Homo sapiens: one gene and its partners. The protein of the gene in region 1 interacts with the protein of each later gene in a biochemical or structural test. Each region holds a gene or a part of one and is shown on either strand. Other genes may lie near its edges. The genes, in order: HSP90AA1, PPP5C, FKBP4 and CSNK2A1.

Region 1 (3,836 bases):
TTCAGCCACTACTAAGACCTCAATTTACGTAATTCCTCCTGTATATTATCGAAGGGGATTAAGAACTTTTCAGAGAATTTAAAGGACTAAACGTGATTGCCATTTACCAAGCATTCAATACCTGCTTAGCACGAGACTGAGACAAGGTCTCTCCCTGCCTGTGCACTGCCCCCTTAGACACTGTCACATATCCAAGTCCCAGGCATTTCCTATCATTTTTATATATGGCGTTAGGCTCAGAATGCAAATCCTATATGCTATCTAACCAAGTTTTGTCTCTAGAACCACCAAATTTCAGAAGTGAAGACTTTTATTTAGCCATTACCACCCCCAGTCCCCAGAGGGACTCTTACCTATTGGGCTGATTTTTTCATCTTTTTTTTGAGATGGAGTTTCGCTCTTGCTGCTCAGGCTGCAGCGCAATGGTGCAATCCCAGCCCACCGCAACCTCCGCCTCCCAGGTTCAAGCGATTCTCCTGCCTCAGCCAGGATGGCTTTAAGTAGATTTGTAAAGAACTTTGAGACACTGTAAGGCCAAGGAATTAAGTGACTGTATTTAACACAGAAGGTATTCCATGAATAACATCAAAACAACGTGGACACTAAGAGAACACATGTAACTCATGGACGCAGGGGATGCATGTTGTCTGCATTCCTGTTTTCTGTGCCTACGTGTGCTCCACCCCACACCTGCTGAGTACATGCTGGGAAGACCATGTCAACCCTTGGAGCAGCTAGTGTTTAACCATCTCCTGCTAGCGCCTCATGTTTTACATTTTGGCACTAACTGTCATCCAGATACTCCCCTTTCCCCCTAAATAAGACACTGTCACACAATATCTTTTAACTCATCTGTATTTGTTACAACTTTAAGCAGAATGTGACTCGAGCACTACATTTCCATCCACAAGACTGGGTCTGAGTTATTTTTGAACAGCTTTACGATATGCTTAGGTAGGCTTTTAACTTTGCTCCTCCAAACAATACTTTTCTTTGGAAAACAAGCCCTGTGGAGAGATCCTTCCATCAAGTTGCTTCAGTTTAACCTATTTCTAGAGGACTAGTACATGCAGAATTGTCAACTACAGGGAATGAAAAGTTCAAAAAGTAGATCCTACAAGATGTAACGAATACTTTTCTAAACATCAAGATACAGCTCAGAACACTTCAATAACAAGATTTGGTCTACTTAGGCATCCGGCTTGACAGCTAAACACTTTAGACCACAAAGTTAACATCATGTTACATACGTCTTACAGTGCACGTTACCCCAATCTGTGAAAATAAACCAACATGAAACTCAAAAAGCATTACTAGCTCTGCTTTAGTGCCTAAGGTATCACAGCATCACTTAGTAGACAGAAATCTTATCTTCCCCTTAAAGTAGTTGTCATGCCATACAGACTTTTTAATATTAACAAAAATAAAGAAAAACATCCTTGAAAATATATTATCAGAGGAATTGTAGAGTACTGAACAGGTAAGTCATCCCTCAGCCAGAGATTAGTCTACTTCTTCCATGCGTGATGTGTCGTCATCTCCTTCAAGGGGTGGCATTTCTTCAGTTACAGCAGCACTGGTATCATCAGCAGTAGGGTCATCTTCATCAATACCTGTTTCCAAAATAAAATCCTCATATTACAAAGATTTCTTAAAGCCAGCTATTAGGGTAATACTCTTGGTTTCTATCTGCTTTCAAGACAGTATTACAGGACATATGAGTCTCAATTTCATTTCTTTGCTCTTGTAAGACCTTACTTATCCCTAAAAAAAACATACTTTAATACCTCCAAGCAGCAAGCAGGACAAGGTGCTCCAAGTTTGGATAACTGAAAGTTCACCATTTTCTTCAATGTCACGTGTGTTTATTTTCTTTTTAACATTACATAGTATAAGGCTTACCCAGACCAAGTTTGATCATCCTGTAGATCCTGTTAGCATGTGTCTGGGGATCTTCCAGACTGAAGCCAGAAGACAGGAGCGCAGTTTCATAAAGCAAGATGACCAGATCCTTCACAGACTTGTCGTTCTTATCAGCCTCTGCCTTTTGCCTTAAGGTCTCAATAATGGAATGGTCAGGGTTTATCTCCAGGTGTTTCTTTGCTGCCATGTAACCCATTGTTGAGTTGTCTCTTAGGGCTTGAGCTTTCATGATTCTCTCCATGTTTGCTGTCCAGCCATATGTGCTTGTGACAATACAGCATGGAGATGTCACCAATCGGTTTGACACAACCACCTGTAATCAAAAAGTGATGACTAGGAACCTAGAAAGATTAATTCCTAAACTTTCATTGTGAAATGAAATCTGTAGAACCCAAATTTCAATAGATCCAAAATACTATCTACTGTCAAATACAACTTAAATGTCGCATTAGGTATCCAAAGAGCACAGGTTATAATTTCATGTTTTACATGCACAATTTTTTTTTTGAGATAGAGTCTCGCTCCATCACCCAGGCTGGAGTGCAGTGGTGCGATCTTGGCTCACTGCAACCTCCGCCTCCTGGGTTCAGGCGATTCTCCTGCCTCAGCCTCCCAAGTGGCTAGGATTACAGGCCGTGCCACCACGCCTGGTTTATTTTTTTCTATTTTTAGTAGAGACTGAGTTTCACCGTGTTAGCCAGGATGGTCTCGATCTCCTGACCTTGTGATCCGCTGCCTCAGCCTCCCAAAGTGCTGGGATTGCAGGCGTGAGCCACCGCGCCCAGCCACACACAACATAGTTTTCTGTTTTAAGTTGAAAACATGCGAAAATGGGCTATGTATGACTAAGCTTGAAAGCACCTTAGAAGTATCAATGATCAGGAAATGCTGTATTCACATACCTTTTCAACTTTTTTCTCCAATATGTCTTTCATGATTTTGCAGAGGTTCTCAAACTTTGTTTTTTTCTCTTCCTGCTTCTTTTTCTCTTCTTCATCCTCTGGAAGTTCCAGGCCTTCTTTGGTGACTGACACTAAAGTCTTCCCCTCAAATTCCTTCAGCTGTTGGACACAGTACTCATCAATGGGCTCAATCATATAGATCACTTCTAAGCCATGTTTCCGAAGACGTTCCACAAAGGCTGAGTTAGCTACCTGGTCCTTGGTCTCACCTGAGGTATTACAAAGTTACTTTTAGACCTTTTAACAGTTAAGAATGGTTTCATCTAGCTCTGACTTTTCTTGCTAGCCAGATACCTAGGCAGAACCTAAGACAGAAAATGACCTAGTTCATGTTAATTATCTTGCCTAGATCAATACCAGTTGTAACAGTGCTACCTGAGTAGAAAACACACCCACAGAGCCTACAAGATTGTAAGAACGACGTGTATGACTGTAACATAGTGTTCTCTTACCTGTGATATAATAGATATGTTTCTGGTTCTCCTTCATTCTGGTGCAGTAGTCCTTGAGAGAAACCATCTCATCACCAGAGGCAGATGTGTAGTACCTTAACAGCTCTGAAAGCTTCTTCCGATTTTGAGAGTCTTCGTGTATTCCAAGCTGAAACAAAGTATGTTCTTTACAAAGACTTTCTGAATTAAAAAAAAAAAAAAAAAACTAAAGAGGCCAATTGGAAAACTAATGGTTATTTACACCAACCTTTATGTTTTTAGAGAACTGCTCATAGAATTTCTTGTAGTTCTCTTTATCTTCCGCCAGTTCAGTAAAGAGTTCTAAGCATTTTTTGACCAAATTCTTCCTGATAACTTTCAAAATTTTGCTTTGTTGCAACATCTCACGGGATATGTTTAGAGGGAGATCCTCCGAGTCTACCACCCCTCTAATGAAGTCTGAAAAAAATATAAACCAAATGCACTGAGTCATTCCAAGGACAAAACTGGTACTATGTAA
Region 2 (7,033 bases), on another chromosome or scaffold:
GTGACAGAGCAAGACTCTCTCTCAAACAAAAAACAAAAAACAAAAACAAAGAAAAAACACTTTGGTTGTTATTCCTATATTCTCACCTCCTTTAACAGATGAGGACACTAAGGCTGAGAAAAAAGGCACTAGGAGCCATGCAGCTGCTACCCAATCTGAGCTGGCTGTGAACCTAGGCGTCCTGAGCCCAGAGCCTGCCCCATCTAGCCCCTGCACTGGTGACCGCAGACTCTCTGCCTGCAGCCCACATGTAAAATAGGGATTTTTATATCACATCCATCACTCATCTGTACTTGTGTAAATGAAAAGTCATTTCCACAAAACAATATTTATACACACTTCCTCCAAACAATGAACCGTTTTTAATTCTCTGTTTGATGAAGACAAAAGTGCTGAAGCTATTCAACTGATTGTGGCCCAGAAACAGTTACAAGCATGGACTAGGGGTTCAAGTCTCAGCTCTGCCACTTCCCTGCTGGGTGACCTTGGAGGAGGGACATCTCCTCTCTAGGCCTCAGTCTGAATTCAGGCTGAATTCAGGTGCACAAAGGGCTCCCAGCAGTGCTGGGCCCAGAGTGAGCAGACCGCTGAGGAAACCGAGGCTAAGGGGAGCTCCCCCGCCCAAGGCCAAGGTCACGTCTTTGCTCTGCTTCCCTGGCGAGCTTCTGGTCTAGGAGGAAACTCTAGCATCCAGCAAGCAGGAGGTAGAGTCTTGGGAAGATGAACTGCCCCAGGGCACATGGAGCCTGAAGAACTGCGCAGAAAGGAGCAAGGCTGAAGGCCTGCAGGCATATGGATGGCCTGATGACAGGTAAGCCCTCATGTTCATGTGGGGGTCCCCAATGCTGCTGGGAGAGCCCCCATGGGGAAATGGGCCATGACAATTTAGGTGCTGGGTATTCTGTAAAAGACTCTGAATTCCCCACCCCCTCAACCCTCCCTGCCATCCGCCAGGCCTGGGACACAGCTCAGACGTGGCACACCCACAAGATGGCTGAAGCCAACCAGCCCAGCCTCAGGGAGTATGCGGGGTTGGGAGTATGCGGGGTTGGGCCCTAGACTGGGCCAGAGTCTTGAAAAGCCTGCTCCTTACCCTGGGGAAAGACACTCTTGCAGCCCCACACTTGACGAAGACCCTGCCTGCAGCCCCTGCTCCTTACCCTGGGGAAAGATGCTCCTGCAGCCCCACACGAGATGAAGACCCTGCCCTAAACCTGTCCTTGGGGCTCCTCTCTTCTGCCCCACTGTCTCCCCAGGCCCCCTTCCCACCTGGAGCCCTGCCCCAACCCAACACCGACTGTCCTTGGTTACTCATTACTGAGCCCTGCAGCTCGTGACCTTTACTCAACCATGTCATCACAGCCACAGCCATCCGGAGGCGGCCACTCCTCTTGTCACCATTTTCTAGATTAGGACAGGAAGAGACAATGAGGGAGGGGCTTGGCCAAGAATGGCTTGGGAGCCCAAGCTGGGAAGGCCTCTGCTCTGCTGCCCCTGCCCCCACCCTTCTAGGTGTCGCCCTAACCCCCCGCCACATCTCTGCCCCCATCCTAACATGTGTCCCCTGGACTCATGCTTAGCTCAAGCCTTCACCTGGCCTGAAGTCCACCCTCCACCCCAGGCCAGCGGCCAACAGCCAGGACAGTGTCTGAGCTGGCTCCACCGACTGCAGACTCGTGCTTCTCAGCCCCGCGACCAACTGCAGACTCGCGGCTCCCAGCTCCCTGGTTGCCCCTCCCTACACGACACAAGCAGCTCCGAGTGTGATGGTTGCAAGGGAAGGAGGGAGTGAAGTGTGTCTGTGTCGGGGGGCAGGATAACAATCCTCTCGACACACACTGACCAAGCCCCCTGCTGCACCATCCCCATGCGCAGGACAAGCGCACGGCCCCGTCTCAGGGAGCGAACTCTGAGGTGGGAGAGATAAGGCCCTGAGGCCAGGCCTCCTGGGTTCAAATCCCAGCTCTGCTACTAACCAGGTGGGGGTCACTGGGCAGGTGACTTCACCCCTTAGGGACTGTTTCCTCATCTGTGCAAGGGGAGTAATCCCAGTTCCCACGTCCCAGGGTGCTGTAATGATTCAGCCAGCCTCCCTGAAGGAAGATGCAGAGCACACCTGGTGTGAAGGTGTGTGCTCGCTCTGCAGAGCCTCATACCGTCAGGATTTTCATTAGGTGGGTGAGGGCACTAGCGAATTCTCACTGTGCCCTAGGTCCCCTCCCTCATCAGCATATCACACATATCCTGTCTGCTGTCCCTGGCAGCATATCACCCTTCTTGTTTTTTTTTTTGAGACAGGGTCTCACTGTGTCGCCCAGGCTGGAGTGGAGTGGTGAGAGCATAGCTCACTGCGGCCTTGAGCTCCTGAGCTCAAGTAATCCTCTTGCCTCAGCCTCCTGAGTAGCTGGGACTAAAGGTGCGTGCCACCACGCTTGGCTAATTTTTGTATTTTTTGTAGAGATGAGGTCTCCTCCCTATGTGGCCCAGGCTTGTCTTAAACTCCTGGGCTCAAGCAATCCTCTCACCCTGGCCTCCCAAAGTGCTGGGATTACTGCCGTGAGCCACTGTGCCCGACTGCCCTTCCTCTTTTCTTCAAAGTGCAGATCCTCACCTGCAATTATTCTGCTAACCTATTCAGTGGTGGGTTTTCTGCCTGCCCCTGAAAGACAAGCTCCACCAGAAGAAGAGAGGCTGTGTGGCTCCTGTCCAGCACCAGCACTAACAATGACAGTAACCATCAGGTGAACCATCACAGGACACTGACCCCGGGCCAAGTACTGGTCTACTCGTGTGAAAGGCAAAAGCTCACTTTTCCTCACCGCTACCCTTGAGGCTGATCCTCTTGTTCTCCTCATTTCACGGATATGGAAAGGAAGGTGTGGCGAGGCGGGGTAACTGGCTCAGGGTCACAAAATGTGAGATGGCTGAGCAGAGCTGTGGCCTGGGTACTCTGGCCTGGGCCCAAGGCCCCACAGGCACTTGCTGGCTGGCTGAGTGGTAAGTAGAGGAGTGAATGGCTCCTCACACCCGTCCCCGCCAGCCCAGCCCTCAGTATCTGCCTGGCTCAGGTGCCAGGCCTGGCCCACTCCCCAGCTCACCGTCTCGTAGTCTCGCAGCGCGGCCCGGAACTTGCCCAGTGCCATGTTGCTGGCAGCCCGGCGGTAATAACCCTTGATGTACTTCTTGTCCAGCTCAATGGCCCGCGTGGCGTCTCCCAGCGCGTAGCCATAGCACTCAGTGCGCAGGTAGGCCAGGCTGCGGTTGCCATAGTAGATGGCATTGCTGGGGTTCAGCTCGATGGCCTGGCTGTAGAACTTGATGGCGTTCTCGTAGTCCTTGGCTGCGGAGACAGAAGAAGAGGCATGAGGCAGTGCTCCAACCCTGCGAGGACAGGCCCTGGGCTGGGTGACGCCCAGTCTCCCTGTTCACAGATGGGGAAGCTGAGGGCTACCCTGAGCCCAGAGACATCTCTTCAGCCTGCCCCTCCTGCCTGTCCCAACCAACCTAGCTCAGGGCTTGTCCTCTCGGCCACAGTCTCCAGGACTCCACACACCCGCCCACCCACCCCTCCAGCCCCAAGCTGGGCACTAGCAGCAGACTGAGGGAAGAGCACTCCGATAGCAAGAAGAGCAGGTGCAGAGGCCCAGAGGTGGTTGAGCCTTGTCTGAGGGCCAGTGAGAGCTGAGGCAGCTGGGTGGAGTGGGCAGGGGGAGGAGAGATGAGGCAGGGAGGCTGGTGGGACAGATCCCTGGGCCCCGGGCAGCCACAGTGAGGTCTGGACACTGATGTTCTAAGTGTGGAGTGACAGGATGTGACATCTGGCCAAGGAGGAGAGGTCGGATTTTATTTGAGATGAGCTATAGCTGTACCCTGCACTTTACCTCGTGACCTGTGGAATCCTCATGTCTCCACGGGAGTAAGGACCATCTGGTGCTCATTTTACAGACAAGCCATGGAGGTCTTGCTCAAGGTCAAATGCCCTGTCTGCACCTGCAGAGCCAGGCTTGATCCCTCCCTCGTGCCCATTTGACAGGCAGGAGAGCCAAGGCTTAAACAGCCTTAGAGGCTTGTCCCCACTGGGGGCCGTGATGTACCAGAGCCATGCAGGGCTTTAGTACACAGGTCCCCCTTCACTGAACTCTCACAAGCCCAGGGAAACTACATTAACCCCCGTCTCCAAATCTGGGGACTGAAGCTCAGGGAAGAAAGGCCGGTGCTCAAGGTCACACAGCAGGTGACAAGTGGGCCTTCTTTTTTTTTTTTTTTTTGAGATGGAGTCTCGCTCTGTCGCCCAGGCTGGAGTGCAGCGGTGCGATCTCCGCTCACTGCAAGCTCCGCCTCCCAGGTTCACACCATTCTCCAGCCTTAGCCCCCCGAGCAGCTGGGACTATAGGCGCCCGCCACTATACCCGGCTAATTTTTTGTATTTTTAGTAGAGACGGGGTTTCACCGTGTTAGCCAGGATGGTCTCGATCTCCTGACCTCGTGATCCTCCTGCCTTGGCCTCCCAAAGTGCTGGGATTACAGGCGTGAGCCACAGCGCCTGGCCGAGAAGTGGGCCTTCTGAGCCAGGCCAAGACCAAAAGGCTCCCACTCTCACGCCCCATGCCATGGTGACCTCTGGGCAGGAGCGTGGCACAGGGGTAAGCACAGAGGCAGGAGTAGGTGGCCTGGGCCCAGTCCCTAGCTCTGCCTCTTACTACCTGGGTATCCCTGGGCTACTGAGGAACCCCCTGTGGACTAGGGTTTCCTAGAGTCCTTCTACCAGCAGCCCTGCACAGAGTCCCCACCCTCACTCCCATTTTAATGTTCTCAACAGCACTCCGAGAGTCCTTCTTACACACAGCCCTGCCCTCCCAGGGCTTACCATCCAGTGGAGGAGACAGATCCATCCCTAGACAGTGGTGCCCAGTGTTTAGGGTTGGGGCAGCTCGGAGGGGACACTGGGGCTGAGACCTGGAGGATGGGAGTCAGTTGGTTGAAGAGATGGAAGAAGAGAGTCCCAGGCTCCATGAGTGGCTCCAGAGGGAAAGGAAGGAGGGATGCAGAGAGAGATGAGGACTGACATTACAGAAGGGAGAAGCCGGGTCCTGGGGATGTGGCCAGCAACAATCTAACAACATTCCTCTTTGCCACGCCAACTCCTGGCAATCTTTCAAATGCTCACATGTCCCCTCCTCCGGGAAGCCCTCCTTTACTCCCAGGCTGGGTCAGGCCCCCGACTGGGCTGCCCCAGCCCCTGGGATCTCCTGTGCCAGCCCTGTCCACTCTCATCGTCACTGTTGAGTAATGAGTGTGTCCCTCCAGAGCTGTAAGCCCCAGGAGGGCAGGGCCCGGGACTTCCCAAAAACAAACAAGGGCAGAACTGGGCAGCCCAGATCTGACCGACCCTCCCTGGAATGCCAGCGCCTTTGAGGACTCCTTCAGGCCTCCTGGCTGTGGTCCAGAGGCTGCCTGGCCCGCGCTCCTGATGGGGCAGCTGTTACTCCAGTGGCACAGGGAGGGGATCCTGGAGTCTCAGGGCCTGCCACCCGGCTCTGCAGATCTCTAACTCGAGGCTGCAGGCAAATAGCCTCCTCTTTCTGAGCTCTGCCTCACTGGGTGGCCGTGAGGATTTTACGAACTTGTGTAAGAAAACTGGCTGCAGCAAAAGAAGCAGGCAAAAGAAGTGAATGCGTGAATGACTAAATGAAGGGAGGAAGTGAAGGGAACAAGAGGAAATGGGAGGAGCCTGTACTCCACGGGTCGACCCACATGCCATATCCTGGCCCTGTTCTATGCGCTTTACAAACAGGACCATATTTAAGCCTCAAGACATTCCCCATTTTAGATGCAAGGAAACAGAGGCCCAGAGAAGTTAAGTCATTTGCCCAGGCGTCATCAAGCAGGTAAAGGAAGACATAGGGTTTGAACCCAGGCAGCCTGAGCTCTCAACCATGGCCTGCTTCCTCCCCACAAGCTCTTATACCTGGAGCCTCCTTAGGGGTTAAGCATAAGCCCCCACCCCCCATTTTACAGAAGCGGGGCACTGAGGCCCACAGAGAGGGGAAGACAGTTGAGACACTTCCCTTAGACTCAGACATGAGACGGGGGACGAGGCTCTGCCCCCAGGATTTCTGGAATAGGCCTGAACTTACAGAGCAACCAGCCACAGTTGAGGGGACAGTCCTCTGAGCCCTGGGACCTCTCTTCTCCCTGCTGGGGCCCCTCTTCTCCTCAACAGGGCCAGTACAGCTCTGGGAGGAACCTGAACGTGGGAGCCAAGCACGTGGCGAGGAAGGGGATATCCGGGCCCTGCTGCTCACACACTCTGACCTTGGGCGAGTGGTTTTTTCACTTCTCCGAGCCTTGCTTCCTTTATAAAACAAACAGGGCCACTCCTAGCCATCTCCCAGCCCCCGGGGAGGATTAAACCCCACAGCGTACCTGGCCACAAGGCTCAATTAAGGTGAGCTGTCATTATTCTTTTTTATTGTTATTCCCACAGCCCTGGAGCCTGGGGCTCTGTGCCTGCTACTGCCTGACAGACAGCAAGGGGCCTGGGCCAGCAGGGCCGTTCTCCTCCGTGCCAGCTCAGTGCCAGGCCCCTCTGGCTGCCTGCCCAGCCCCAGGACTCCTGAGAGCCTGGATCCCAGGTCCTGGGGGGCAACAGGCTCCTCCCAATGGCTGCTGTGGCCCAGAATTCTGATGCGGCCTCAGCAGCAACCCCCATGCAGGCTGCTCCCATCCCAGGGAATTCCACCTTCCACCCCATCACCTGGCTGAGACAGCCTCATCCTGGACTCCTCTCCATCCCTCAGCCCCCAAAGCCCGGTAGTCACTTCACTTATTCTGCCAAGTCAGCCTCCTGAACATCTCTCAGATTCAGCCACTCCCTTCTCACCCTCCAGCCCCACCCAGCCCTGGTCTGGCCTCTCCTGCCCAGGTTCCTGGCTCAGCCTCCACCTGGCCTCGCAGCCTCTTGTCCTGCCCCTCCAGAGGGGTGTTCCTAAAACACAAACCTGACCCTGTCCTTTCCCTACTCAGAACCTCC
Region 3 (7,232 bases), on another chromosome or scaffold:
CATAGTGAGACCCCGTCTCTACAAAAAATAAAATTACTGGGTGTGGTGGCATGTACCCGTAGTCCCAGCTACTTGGGGGACTGAGGTAGGAGGATTGCTTGAGCTCGGGAGATTGAGGCTGCAGTGAGCCATGTTCACGCCACTGCACTCCAGCCTGGGTGACAGAGCTCGAGAGCCTGTCTCAAACAAACAAAAAACACAACTGCATATTCCAGCAATCAACAGGCTGAAATGTGGCACACACACTACCACTCACCTACGCCCTGTGTACCATATACAAGTTCAGGTACTTCACATGTAATATCCCATTGCCAGTCTCAGTGGCTCACACCTGTAATCCCAGCACTTTGGGAGACCAAGGAGGATCACTTGAGTTCAGGAGTTCAAGACCAGCCTGGGCAATACAGGGCGATCCCATCTCTACAAAAAAAATTTTTTTAAGTTAGCCAGGCATGGTGGTCTGTGCCTGTGTAGTCCCAGCTATTCCAGAGGCTGAGGTGGAAGGATTTGCTTCAGCCTGGGAGGCGGAGTCTGCAGTGAGCTGTGATGCACGACTGCATTCCAACCTGGGCGACAGCGTGTGACCCTGTCTCCAAAAAATAAATAACCCATTTAATCTTCAGAGAAAACCCCTGAGAGAAAGGCATTATCATGACAGCCATTTTAGGGACAAGGAAACCTTCCTCCAGGACTCACACGGTGAGTTCAATGATGAAGCTGAGATTTGAATCCAGGTAAAGAGCTTGTGCTGGAATTGGAATCCAGGAGAATCCAATCCAGAGCCCATGAGCTTAACCTTCACGCAGGTCTTCACTATGCACAGGCCTCACATAGGGGCCTACTATTTTTAAATTGTATGAAAATGGGACTAAAATCACTAACATAAATAAATGTTTTAAGAAGTATGTAGAGGCCGGGCACGGTGGCTCACGCCTGTAATCCCAGCACTTTGGGAGGCCGAGGCAGGTGGATCACGAGGTCAGGAGATGGAGACCATCTTGGCTAACACGGTGAAACCCCGTCTCTACTAAAAATACAAAAATTTAGCCGAGCATGGTGGTGGGCAACTGTAGTCCCAGTTGCTTGGGAGGCTGAGGCAGGAGAATGGCATGAACCCGGGAGGCGGAGCTTGCAGTGAGCAGAGATCACGCCACTGCAGTCCGGCCTGGGCAACAGAGCGAGACTCCGTCTCAAAAAAAAAAAAAAAAAAAAAAGAAAGAAAGAAATATGTATTTTTTGGTCAGTAGAGTTTCTATTTTCTCAATCAACAGACACCAAAGTTAACAAGAAAATATGTAAAGGTCTTTAACGGCTTTTTTTTTTTTTGGCATTACATTTTTGACAAATTATACTGGGAACATTCTAACTTAGGCTGGGTGACAGATTTCCAGCTTTCATTGTACTGGTATACTGCATAACATGTATGCATACATGAACACACACACCTATATGCATTTCAGTCTTTTGAACGATCCAAATATCATACAATTATTTGGATGTTAAGTGCATTGGCAGCCTAGGAAGGTCAAGATATGAACTGTAGAAACAAGGGGTCTTCATGTGTAAATGATGGGCCCAGAGTTTGGGATCTGAGCCAGGTCAGCTCTAAGAGGCTCAGTGTGACGAAAACAAAGTTTCTGATCCCAGCAGGAGTCACCTACAGATAAGGTGGATGAGAAAAAGTGTGCTGACTTCCTCCCGCAAAAAAAGGGGACATTTTGGAAGAATTTCGAGTGGTACCGGTTACACATCTTTAATGAGAATACTAACTTAAATGGCCTGGGGAAAGGGTGAGGAGATAGAGGAAAGAGACTAAAACACGTGCACACTTTCTACAGTATATGTACTTTTTATGATCAGAAAAATATCACATAAACGACCAGGAAATATTCTAAGAGAAACAGTAAGTTCCTGCTCCAGGATTCAAGACCCCTAGTTTCCTCCTGTGGTTTCTCCTAGTTTCTGCCTGTGGTCCCCTAGTTTCCTCCTTCACTGTGTGGGGACAGAGCTTCTCACCGGGAACCTTGCCCTCTTGCCCTTCCCTGTCTCACAGACCTCTGTTTTCTTAGCCCTTTGTCCCCATCTCCACTGCAGCGCCTATCAGATCACACTAAAACGACCGTTATTTACCAGCTGCGGAGTTGGAGGCGAGGACTGAGCTAGATACCATACACAGATTCCCGCTTTTTTAACCATTAAATCACCCTCTTTTACAAATGTTACTATCTCTATTTTACAGACAAGAAATCGAGACATGAAGATTAACTAACCTGCCCCAATTTAAACAGCTAACATAACACATGGGCCGCCCAACGTCCCTTACTCCAAAGCACATGCTCATTCCACTAGGGTATTAGGCTATGTGTTAATGTAACGGCAGGCAATCTGAAGGGCTCCACTATGTACGTGCCGAACAGAATTAAAGGGGGGGTCCCACACTGTCCGCTTCCGATGAAGAAAAAGACGCAGAAAAGAAACCGCCACACGTGGAGAATCAGTAGGTGCAAGCCAAGGACAGTTTGCGGTAAACTGCCACCCCGGAAGCCAGCACCCACCATCCTGGTCTCCCGGAGTTTGGGTGACCCCTGGCACTGTTACTTCTGCATAAAAGTAGTGGATTTAACCCCTACAGAGGCAGCGCCCCGTATCCTCTGAAGCTGTCTCCAGCCACCTAAAGAGACGTCTTCATTATGGCTCAACTCATTTGGGCTGTAAATTGCTGAAGCGAAGGGCTTTTTCTTCTGCATCCCTTTCAAGTTCCGTCGGCAGGGACTACAATAAATCATCACATTATGACGCTGAAAGTTCATCTCTAAAAAGCTTTCAATTTAGTTTGATGAGACTAATGGCGTCCAATCGCACAGTGCCGGGCACATAACGGGAAGTCCAAAAATACAGTTATTATTGGAATAAAAATTCAGGCTGGGCGCAGTGGCTCACGCCTGTAATCCGAGAACTTTGGGAGGCCGAGGCGGGCGGATCATTTGAGACCAGATGTTCGAGACCAGCCTGGGCAACATGGCGAAACCCCGTCTCTACTAAAAATACAAAAATTAGTCGGCGTGGTGGCGGACGCCTGTAGTCCCGGCTACAGAGAGCCAAGATCGCACCACCGCACTGCAGCCTGGGCGACAGAGCAAGACCCTGTCTCAAAAAAAAAAAAAAAAGAAAAAAAAATCAGCCAAGACTTGGAAAAAGAAATTTAAAAAAGGAAAATTCATGCAGCCAGTAACTATTGGGACATCACTCACCAGGCACTATGCTAAACTGGGGTTAGGTGCTGAGCAAAACCAGGCCCCTCTCTAGATGGCTCTCTAGGTCCCACGACCATAGCTTAGGTGACACCGGCACCTGCGCGCTCCACAGCCTGTCGAAAAACACTCGGGAAGCAAACATTGAGAAGAAAATACTCCTTCTGTGGGCCTTTAGGAAAACCGAGTGACTTTTTTCGTGAGGGGAACCCATCTTTGTAAGCATTCGCGGAAACGGCAGTTTTATTACCGCCGGGAAGGGTCCCCTGAGTGTGTGCCCCATCTGAGTTCCGAGCTGGGCGGGCCATGCCTTGCCAACCCCGCTGCTCGCAGCATCTGCAGGCGCTGAGCGAGGCATCGCTGCCTGGCCGGGGCTTCTCGGATCTGGGGAAATCGAGGTCGCTTTCCCCGGCTCTCTGCAGCGGGGCAGCGCTGTCCACTCACTCCCCGCTCCCCGCGCACGCCCTTGCCCTCTTTCCCCCAAGTAGGGAAGGGTCTACGCGGGTCATAGCAGAGAGGCCACGCCGCCCGTGGTGACGGCCGGTCCCGGGGAGGGGGCGCCGCCACTGCCATCCCGCAGCCTGCGCTCCCCACACCCCGCCGCAGGCGCAGCGGACTGGTGGAGTGATGTCGGGAGATCGATCGAGAAGAATCTGGAAGAATCCGGTTAGACAGGGAAGCGGGCGGGGATGGGAGGGAGGGAGGAAGGGCCAAGGGAGGCCGCCGGGGAGATCCCGAGTCCGAGGGTCCCAGGAGAAGGGGGAGGGGGCAGGCAGCCAGAAGGAGGCAAGAACCAAAAAAAAAAAAAGAAAAAAAAATTCCGAAGCGCCCGCAGCACTGAGCCCGAACCGGCTCAGTCCCGCCGTCTCTAGAAAGTTCTGCACCCCGCCCCCTCTGTCTGCGCTCCCGCTCCTCCCAGCCCCTCCCTCGCGGCGGGGCGGGACCAATCGCTCCCCGAGCCGCTCCTGACCCACCTACCCCAGCTCTCGCGCCGCGTGCAGAGGTGCTCAAGCCTCCTCGCGGTCCGCAGTCAGTGCCGCCGCGCCCGGCCTCCCGCACGCCCCGCAGGTAGCGCCCCCGCCCGCGGCCCAGAGTGCGCTCGCGCCGGCACCAGCTCCCGGATAAACGGCGCGCCGCGCGGAGATGACAGCCGAGGAGATGAAGGCGACCGAGAGCGGGGCGCAGTCGGCGCCGCTGCCCATGGAGGGAGTGGACATCAGCCCCAAACAGGACGAAGGCGTGCTGAAGGTGAGGGGCGGCGGGGCCTGCGGAGGCGTCGGAACCCGGGGCCCCGCGGGCCGCCCTTCCGCCGCGCCCGGAGCCCGCGGCCGGGCACGGGTCGAGGCGGCCGCCTTTGCAGCCTCGCGGCCGTCCCGCCGGGGGCCGGTGGCATCGCCGTCCCGGACCGGGCTGCGTCGTTTAAGGCACCGAGGCCGGCCATGCGCTCGGCAGGGGGGCGGCCTAGGTGCGCGGGCCGAGGCCCCAGGCTCCCCAGCCGGCAGCGCCCGGGCCCGGGCAGGGGGTCGGGATTGCAGTGCCCACCCCGGCGCGCGCGGGGCGGCGGAGAGGGGCGGGGCGAGGCGACCGCCGCGGGCACCCGAGCCGCAGCCCGGGGCCAGGCCGGGCCTCCCACGCCACGCCGCCCCCGACCTCGCGGCCCCAGCGGAGCTGCCAGCCGCGGGCCGCCTCGTTGGTGGCGGTGCCAGGGCTCGCCCACCCGGGCGGTGGAACACGGGCCAGGACGGGGAGCGACTCCCCACAGTGCTTTCCTGGCCCTTCGGCCTTTGTGCGACGCAGGCGCGACAGGGTTCCGGCGCCCTCCCGGGGTCCCCTGCCGACGCCGGGACCCAGCGAGGTCCCCACTCGCCGCGCGGCGCCCCCTCCCTCGGCCCCGGGGAGGCCGGGCGCGGGGCATGCCGGGAGCTGTAGTCCCCTCCCCCCTCCGCCGCCTCCCGGAGCCAGGGCTGCGGGGTGTGGGGCGGGGAGGAGGCGCTCTGCTGTGGAGCCTGCCGCCGAGTGACCGCTCGACTACAAATAGCCTGGGGAGCTGCGGGGAGGGCATCTTGACCTGGGCCAGGACAACCTGCCTTGGGTCGGAGCAGGTTCCAGGGAGAATCAGAGATGGTGAATTCCCAGCCTGCGTCTTATGCCTTCTCCCCATCCGCTGCTGCGTCCTCATCCTGGCTTCCCACCGCTGAGCTCCGCGTGTGCGGCACCCACCTCAGGGGGCCTTTACCTGGTCCAGAAGTGCATCTGTCTTTGCACCAGATTATTGGGGACCTCAAGCGTCTGCTCCAGCGGCTCTCCTGTGGCATGTGACTTCCCCTTCTCGCTCCAGCGTCCTGCCGTTTTCTACGAGATTGTTATTCCAGGAAAGCTCATTTCCCCTTTGATCCATCATTCCTTCCCTTTTACCTTTCTACTCCTCAAAGCCCCTGTCTATTCTTCGTGGAAGCTTTCCCTTGGAGGGTAACCACACACCTACCAGGTGGCGCTAAAGAAGCCTTTACGTTTCTGGGAAATACTCCAGCCCTGGACTAACTACCAGAGGAATACTCAGCTCCCAAGTCAGAGTTTAAGGTCCCATGGAGAGCCTCCGGGTTCACCTATAACCTGGTTTCTTCCTTACCTGTTTTGAACTGTTTCTATTCTCTTCACTCATACTCCTCTCGCTCTCCTGTCTCCAAACCAGACCTTAGTCTGACGACCACTGGCATGAAGGAAGAAGGAGGAAGTGTGGCATAAATACTTCCCCCTTTGCCGATTATAATAATAATCTATTATTCAACCTTTTACTGGTCTAATCTTCCAACAACTGTAGGAGATAGGGATTATCATCACTGCTTTACAAATAAAGTGTGGAGAATTTTAAAAACTTACCATACAGCGGAAACTTGAACTCAGATCTCTCAGCCTTTTGTCTCCTTTTTCAAACCAAGTCTTGCTGCACCTCAAGAAAGACAAGAAGGTTAGTTGACTCATAAGCCAAGCTGCTAGTAACTGAATCTGGAGGGACAAGTAGGCAGAGGAGGATGAACACAGAGAAGTCCCTTTATGTTCCCTCTGGAGGCTTGCAGGCAGTGCTGGTGCCCCTTTCTGCCCCAAACCCTGGGGTACTCACTTTCTCCCCCTTCCTCCCAGGTCATCAAGAGAGAGGGCACAGGTACAGAGATGCCCATGATTGGGGACCGAGTCTTTGTCCACTACACTGGCTGGCTATTAGATGGCACAAAGTTTGACTCCAGTCTGGATCGCAAGGACAAATTCTCCTTTGACCTGGGAAAAGGTAGGCGTGGTCAGTGGGCTGGTAGGATAGGTTCGAGGTGGACACAAGCTGTCACAAGCAGAAACCATTTTCTCAGGACCAAGCTCAGGGAGGAATGGTTTATCACAGTCTGTTAACTCTTTCGGTCACTCTTTTTTTTTTTTTTCTACCGTTCTGTAACTATATTGATCTCTGTCTCCCCTTCTCCTCATCACCTCCCAACACCTTACTCCCCCTTCAAAGGTGGACTGTCTTGCATCTTAAACTCTTTTGTTCAGGGTCACGTGATCTTTTACAGTTCTTAGACCTGGTAGCACTTAATACAACCAGGTACCTCACCTTCTGGTCCCATTTCTAAAGGATGTCCAGCTTCCCCATGAGTGTGGTGCAGTAACTCTTCAGGAGCACTGTTTGAGCCCAGAATCAGAACCCTGCTAAGGCGGTCCTGTTTGCTTCTGTACCTGCAGGGGAGGTCATCAAGGCTTGGGACATTGCCATAGCCACCATGAAGGTGGGGGAGGTGTGCCACATCACCTGCAAACCAGAATATGCCTACGGTTCAGCAGGCAGTCCTCCAAAGATTCCCCCCAATGCCACGCTTGTATTTGAGGTGAGTGTTTGGTCACTGAGATCCAGGCTAAGAGCCAGGCCTTATCTCAGCCCAATGCCTGGCTGCCCTCCAGCCCTTCCTGCTTCTTGGAGACAATGTAGCCAAG
Region 4 (7,033 bases), on another chromosome or scaffold:
AAGGCCAGGTGCAGTGTCTCACGCCTGTAATGCCAGCACTTTGGGAGGCCAAGTTGGGCGGATCACCTGAGGTCAGGAGTTCAAGACCAGCCTGGCCAACATGGTGAAACCCCATCTCTACTAAAAATACAAAAATTAGCTGGGCGTCATGGCGGGCGCCTGTAGTCCCAGCTACCTGGGAGGTTGAGGTGGGAGAATCGCTTGAACCCGGGAGGCGGAGGCTGCAGCAGCTGAGATTGTGCCACTGCACTCCAGCCTTGGCCACAGAGCAAGACCTTGTCTCCAAAAAAAAAAAAAAAAAAAAAAAAAAAAAAAAAAAAAAAAAAAATATATATATATATATATATATATATATGAGAACATTATTATACATTCTTCTCCACTCCTCTTAGACATGGCTCTGCATCTCACTTTTTCTTTTGAGACAGAGTCTCACTCTCACCCAGGCTGGAGGGCAACGGTGCGATCTCGGCTCACTGCAACCTCTGCCTCCCAAGTTCAAGCGATTATCTTGCCTTAGCCTCCAAGTAGCTGGGATTAAAGGCGCCGCCGCCACGCCCAGCTAATTTTTTGTATTTCCAGTAGAGACAGGGTTTCGCCATGCTGGCCAGGCTGGTCTCGAACTCCTGACCTCAAGTGACCCACCCGCCTCAGCCTCCCAAAGTGCTGGGATTACAGGCATGAGCCACTGCACCTGGCCCTGCATCTTGCGTTTTAAATTTCACATTATTATATTGGAGTTGGAGATCTAACAGAACATGAAACTCTTATTCTACTGGCTGCACCACATTCCATTAAATGGATATACCATAACTGATTTAACCAGTTTCCTACTGATAGCTATTCTCAATGTTTTGTTATTACAAATAAGGCTACAAGTAAGTTTGGATATACATTACTCTGTACAGAGGTAGGATACTCAAGGGGTAAATTCTAGAAGGCAGTTAGTTCTTTTCTTAAAAAAGAGGAGGGCAACAGCAATTATTTGAGGATATGTAAGTAAATGCCTTCACTACCAGATATGCACCCACTTGGATGTTGCCTATATGTATAATTCTTATGCTATGTGCCTGTAGTTCCTTTGGAATAACTGGGTACTCTATAAAAATTCACTGTGCGTCACAATGATCCAATAATGGAAAACCATTTTACTTATGTTTTTACAACTGATAGGCACTCTATAGTTGCTCTGGCACATGTCACGGAACTGTCCTTGTACACATACACACCTATGTATAAACCCCACCTCTATACCCCATTTCTTAACATTGTTTCTAAGGGCCATGTAACTACTGTCATTTCAAACTATAAGATGAAATGGTGTATTTTTCCTTTTCATGGCTTGGCACTTTCAAGCCCCTATGCCAAAAATTTTCAGCCAGGAATGCTGAGATTCTAGCCTAGAAGGGGATACCCTACTCAAGACAGTATCACTAAAGTATACCAAATGTCAAGCATGCTGAAACCTGGTTAAAAAAAAGTCACAAGGCCACCAGTACGGAGAAGAGAAGGTATACAAGAAATCAGACCACAAAGCTAAGAACAGTAATTGACTTCCACATTTTTTTAAAGAAAATTTACCAATGAACTGACCTGACATCATATTGGCGCTGCTGACGGGCGTACTGCCCCCTGGCATGCTAGATGAACCCATTCGAGCCTGGTCCTTCACAACAGTGTCTAGAAAAGAGACAAAAAGGCTAGGTTCTGTTTTGCTTGAAAGATTAAACTAATGGTCTGGAAGCCTGAAAGCAGCCAGCTTCATTCTTTGCAATTTATATATACTCTACATTATTCCCCAAAGAACTTAAGGTGGCAATTGCCTTCACCATGAATTAGACAAGTGGTAAAAAGCAGAAATAGCTTTCCTATCAAACTGTGGTAAAAGCTAACCTTTCAATCAAATGGTAGAAAGATGAGGTAATTATTTATAGCAGAGCGAATTTAATGAAGCCCTGGTCCTGTTGAGGTTTAATGGAGACAAGACACTGTAACTCGGCAAAGACGGTAATATATTACCAGTGTGTCCACAGCCCAGTACCAAGTAGGCCAAAGCTATAGGTCCATGTAGCTTAGGGCTATGACCACATTCTCTATCCCAATCAGCCTATCTATCTGCTTCAGGTATTGGGCAAAAGTATAAATGATTCAGTACAAAACCATCACACCGAAGGAAAAATGTCATGTTGCAGCTAACATCACAGTGCAGATGGGGTGGGTCTCAGTGGTATTTTCACTTAGGATGGCACAGGTGGCTATACTCACAAATCTAAGTCAAGGTGTTCATACAATTTTAAGATTTGTAAGCCTCATTAGCTCTTTCCAACGAATGATTACTAGGGACAGGAAAGATACAGGGCTGTGTATTCTAATTCAACCATTCCAGACTGAGGCACTGAGAAGTGTCATCCTCACAGTATGAAAAGAGTTTATTTAGGAATGCTCTTGTGTCATGTATTCTGTTACAGAAGAATTCTTCCAGTAATTCTGCAATGTAGTTGCCATCACTATCCCCACTGGAAGAATCTGAGGCTCAGTGTGGGTGAATTAACTTTGCAGCAAGCTGACAGGAGCTGGGATTACGACTCTGTTCTATAGGACTCTGCGCCTGCACAAACTCTGTGGGCTAGATATCTGGACTCACAGAAATAGGGGTGCTCCATTGCCTCTCTTGCAGTAAGCCGTGACTGGTGGTCATATCGCAGCAGTTTGTCCAGGAAATCCAAGGCCTCAGGGCTGACAAGGTGCTGATTTTCACTGTGGACAAAGCGTTCCCATCGCTTTCGAGAGTGTCTGCAGGACCAAAAGAGGGCATGAGAAATGGGCCACGTGGGCACAGAAGCCCAACATTTCATTCCTACATTTTTCTTAGTGGCTAACAGCCCAGACAAAAGCAAAGAGGGATCCAAACTCAAGAGGGTAGTCTTGCACCGCTCTGCCACTGAGTGGGACAACAAAGCTAACTGGAGACTGGAAACAACATAGCTAGAGTGAAAAAAGACATCTGAGTCCTCTCAATTTTAAGAAACATAATTCAGGTTACTTGACAGGACGTGACCGCTTCTGTGTAGCAAGGAGGGTCAGGTGGCTGAGCTCACCAGGCCTATTTCCCATCCCCACACATATTCCTGGCATCTCTGCCAATTGGCCAGCAAAAGCCTTTGCATCAGGAAAGTCCATCTCCTCCTGTTGAGTGGTTAAGTGTATAAGTACTATATCTAGTCACTACTGTTAAGAGTCGGTTGTCTGCATATAGCCTTTTTTTTTTTTTTTTTGGAGACAGGGTCTCACTCTGTTGCCCAGACTGGAGCGCAGCCACATGTTCATTGCTCTCTGTAGCATTCCCTCCTGGGCTCAAGGGAAGCTCCTGCCTCAGCTTCCTAGTAGTCTGGACTACTGCCACACATCACCATGCATGGAGTCGAGGGTCTCATTATGTTGTCCAGGCTGGTCTCCAACTCCTGGGCTCAAGTGATCCTCCTAAAGTTCTGGGATTACAGATATGAGCCACCGTGCCCAGCCTGCACATCAGTCTTAAAGCATGCATTTTCTACTTCAATTTCTTTCTCTTGGAGAGAGGTTTTTCACTTAAAGAAGCAAGGTAAATTTTGATTTTTGCCTCAACTGTAACCCTTCTACTAGAATCTACATTCATTTTGTAGGAATCCTCTAGCTATAACCCCTCCATCAGACTCCTGTAAGTTAATTTGAATAAAGGGCCATTCAATCCAATGCCTTTATCAGAGGCCTGCTCAATGCAGCATCCTGTGGCACTGGACCACTGACATCCTGACAGTGCTGGCAAAGAAAACATAACTATTTTGAAGATCCTAAGTGCCAGTTCACTCTCAAAGTGCTTAAGCCACAGATGCACATATTTTGTTTCATGACTTACCTGCCCAAGATATCATTGAAACGTGGATCTAATTCAATGTTGTATTTGTCAATATAGTCATATAAATCTTCTGTCCCCAGAACCTTGGCTATCCTCACCAACTAGTATTAAAGAAAGACAAAAACCCATATCACAAGCATATTATATTAACAAATCAACAATTAACAATGATTGAATTTACATAAACGGGTCATCATGTCTACAGGTATGAATGCTACCTCCTAACAGTTTAGACTTCAACTCAATGTGATAGTGTTAGAAAAAGCAAACTACTTTATAAACTGGTTTCTTCCTCTTGAAATGTCACCCTGGTGAACCCTTATTTTTCTCCCCTCAAAACCCAATTGAAGATGTCACTTCTTTTGGGAAGCTCCCATTGCACACTCAAACTACTCACCACTACTGCCTTTTGTGCCTTGTCCACATTTCTACTCTGAAGTTATGACTGTAACCTATTTTGTTGTATGTTTGACTCCCTTACAAGATCAGCTATGAACTATCTGAGGGGAAGAAAACTATTCTTTCTTTTTTCTGTATTCCTCAGTACTGCATGCACTTGATACAGAGTTATTGACTTTAATGGAATTCAGGTTGTATTCTTTGACTCATTAAAATTGGACATGGTGCTCAAAGGGAACAAGACAATGGTACCTTCCACAAGGTCCTAGAATCATTCCAGGTTCTTGTGAATGAAAGAGCCCTTTGATCTTCAAGGGGGAAGTGGAGTTAGTTTAAGAAACATCTGTAACTCAACCCATATAAAGAGCCAAAAGGATCACAGAAATACCACATATGGGCTCACATATTGGAGAAAACACCATATTGGAGATAAGGGTTTATTAGGAGAATTCTAAGGTAATGTCCTATTTTAAAAATCTGGATGACAATTTATATGTATTCTTCACAATAAAATAAGCAATGCAAATGACAAAGACTAGGGGGGAATGTCTGATTTCAAAAGGCTAAGCTGGTAGCTCCCGAAACATCAATCTAAGGATCAATATCGGGGTGGCTGAATAAACAGTGAACTGAAAGTTACAGGCAGTGCTGGCTATCATTGCATTAGGCCAGTACATTTTTCAATGGGTATAACATATATTACCTGATCATAATTGTCATGTCCATGGAAAAATGGCTCCTTCCGAAAGATCATACTTGCCAGCATACAACCCAAACTCCACATATCCAAACTATAATCGTACATCTGCATAAAAGTAAACTCACTGTTATTATCTGTGAATCCTCAGGCTTGTCACTTCAAAATAAAAAATTAATTTTTAAAATTAAAAAAAAATCACTCCACTGACTCAAAATCAAAACACTAATAACATCTTCATATATTTCTTTTTAGTCTTTCTTTTTTTTTTTTTTGGAGACAGAGTCTCACTCTGCTGCCCATGCTGGAGTGCAGTGGCGCAATCTTGGCTCACCACAACCTCCGCCTCCCGGGTTCAAGCAATTCTCCTGCCTCAGCCTCCTGACTAGCTGGGACTACAGGCGCGTGCCACCATGCCTGGCTAATTTTGTATTTTTAGTAGAGACGGGGTTTCACTACGTTGGCCAGTGGTCTCAAACTCCTGACCTCATGATCTGCTCGCCTCAGGTTCCCAAAGTGCTAGGATTACAGGCATGACCCACCGTGCCTGGCTAGTTTTTTCTTTTTTTTTTTTTTTTAGTTTTTTTTTTAGTTTTTTCTTTTATGCATCTTTCACTCGGTTTTAAAACAATTTTTACTTTTTTTTTTTTTTTTTGAGACAGAGTCTTGCTCTGTCGCCCAGGCTGCAGGGGTGTGATCTTGGCTCATTGCAACTCAGCTTCCCAGGTTCAAGCAATTCTCTGCCTCAGCCTCCTGAGTAGCTGGGATTACAAGCGCCCACCACCGCGCCTGGCTAATTTTTTTGTATTTTTAGTAGAGACAGGGTTTCACCATCTTGGCCAGGCTGGTCTTGAGCTCCTGACCTTGTGATCCACTTGCCTTGGCCTTTCCAAGTGCTGGGATTATAGGCGTGAGCCACTGTGCCTGGCTCTTTTTTTTTTTTTTTTAAAGACACAGGGTCTTGCTCTGTTGCCCAGGCTGGAGTGTAGTGGCGTGATCATAGCTCACTGCAGCCTCCAACTCCTGGGCTTAGGCCTCCTGAGTAGGTAGGATTACAGGCATACACCACTATGCTCAGCTAATATACATACTATTTTGAATTGTTTTCTTCACTTACATGAAAAAAAAAAAAAAAAAACCTCCAAATTGTTAGCCCATGGAGACCATCTAATGTGTATCATTAGTATTTTATTACATAAATGTTTCAGAATTCAATCTTTAATTTTCCTATAATAGGACAGTGTTCTGTTTTTCACAATTATTAGTAATACTGTAAAAACTATTTTTATGCATAAAATGCTTTTTGAACTCAGGGCTATAGCCTTAAGACCCCAAGAAAGAAATTCCTACAAGAACAAAAAGTCTGAAACTTTTAAAATCAACTGATAATAACCTGGAAAGACTGGGCATAAAAGATACTCCCAAGAAAACTTCAGATTTTTAAACACTTGGCAAATCTATTATTAATTTGGTTCCTTTCTCCTTTTTCTGTGAGGAGAAAGAAGGCTTTTTGGGGGAGCTGGGGAGAAGACCTTTTTATTTAGTATACAATTCAGAAGAACAAGAAAACATTCTTGAATTTACTCTGAAGATTGGTTAAACTTAGTTACAGGATGGGCATGGTGGCTCATGCCTGTAATCTCAGCACTTTGGGGAGCCAAGGTGTGAGGATGGGTTGTGCCCAGGAGTTTGAGATCAGCCTGGGCAACATAGTGAGACTTTCTCTCTACACACAAAAAAATTAAAAATTAGCTGGGTGTGGTAGTGCACGCCTGTAGTCCCAGCTACTCAGGAGGCTAAGCTGGAAGGATCACTTGAGCCCAGAAGTTCGGGGCTGCAGTCAGCTATGATCATGGCATTGCACTCCAGCCTGGGCAACAGAGCAAAACCCTGCCTCAGAAAACAAACAAAAGGCCGGGCGTGGTGGCTCACGAGGGCAGGAGATCGAGACCATCCTGGCTAACACAGTGAAACCCAGTCTCTACTAAAAATACAAGAAAAATTAGCTGGGGTGGTGGTGGGTGCCTGTAGTCCCAGCTACT

What was found.
Region 2: the proteins of HSP90AA1 (region 1) and PPP5C form a complex in vitro, tested with the Homo sapiens proteins (4 studies listed by BioGRID, with this or other methods).
Region 3: the proteins of HSP90AA1 (region 1) and FKBP4 form a complex in vitro, tested with the Homo sapiens proteins (4 studies listed by BioGRID and IntAct).
Region 4: the proteins of HSP90AA1 (region 1) and CSNK2A1 form a complex in vitro, tested with the Homo sapiens proteins (4 studies listed by BioGRID and IntAct, with this or other methods).

The regions. Positions count from the first base shown.
Region 1 is NC_000014.9:102,080,209-102,084,044, forward strand, and holds the end of HSP90AA1 (heat shock protein HSP 90-alpha), read right to left. Parts: intron 3,776-3,836; coding exon 3,585-3,775; intron 3,486-3,584; coding exon 3,338-3,485; intron 3,095-3,337; coding exon 2,826-3,094; intron 2,237-2,825; coding exon 1,903-2,236; intron 1,614-1,902; coding exon 1,504-1,613; 3' UTR 534-1,503; downstream 1-533. UniProt on the Homo sapiens protein: Molecular chaperone that promotes the maturation, structural maintenance and proper regulation of specific target proteins involved for instance in cell cycle control and signal transduction.
Region 2 is NC_000019.10:46,350,055-46,357,087, reverse strand, and holds part of PPP5C (serine/threonine-protein phosphatase 5), read right to left. Parts: intron 3,341-7,033; coding exon 3,099-3,340; intron 1-3,098. UniProt on the Homo sapiens protein: Serine/threonine-protein phosphatase that dephosphorylates a myriad of proteins involved in different signaling pathways including the kinases CSNK1E, ASK1/MAP3K5, PRKDC and RAF1, the nuclear receptors NR3C1, PPARG, ESR1 and ESR2, SMAD proteins and TAU/MAPT.
Region 3 is NC_000012.12:2,790,746-2,797,977, forward strand, and holds the start of FKBP4 (peptidyl-prolyl cis-trans isomerase FKBP4), read left to right. Parts: upstream 1-4,224; 5' UTR 4,225-4,394; coding exon 4,395-4,499; intron 4,500-5,195; exon of another isoform or gene 5,196-5,623; intron 5,624-6,131; exon of another isoform or gene 6,132-6,201; intron 6,202-6,392; coding exon 6,393-6,537; intron 6,538-6,983; coding exon 6,984-7,126; intron 7,127-7,232. UniProt on the Homo sapiens protein: Immunophilin protein with PPIase and co-chaperone activities. Component of steroid receptors heterocomplexes through interaction with heat-shock protein 90 (HSP90).
Region 4 is NC_000020.11:484,783-491,815, forward strand, and holds part of CSNK2A1 (casein kinase II subunit alpha), read right to left. Parts: intron 5,100-7,033; coding exon 4,998-5,099; intron 3,997-4,997; coding exon 3,896-3,996; intron 2,794-3,895; coding exon 2,645-2,793; intron 1,681-2,644; coding exon 1,594-1,680; intron 1-1,593. UniProt on the Homo sapiens protein: Catalytic subunit of a constitutively active serine/threonine-protein kinase complex that phosphorylates a large number of substrates containing acidic residues C-terminal to the phosphorylated serine or threonine.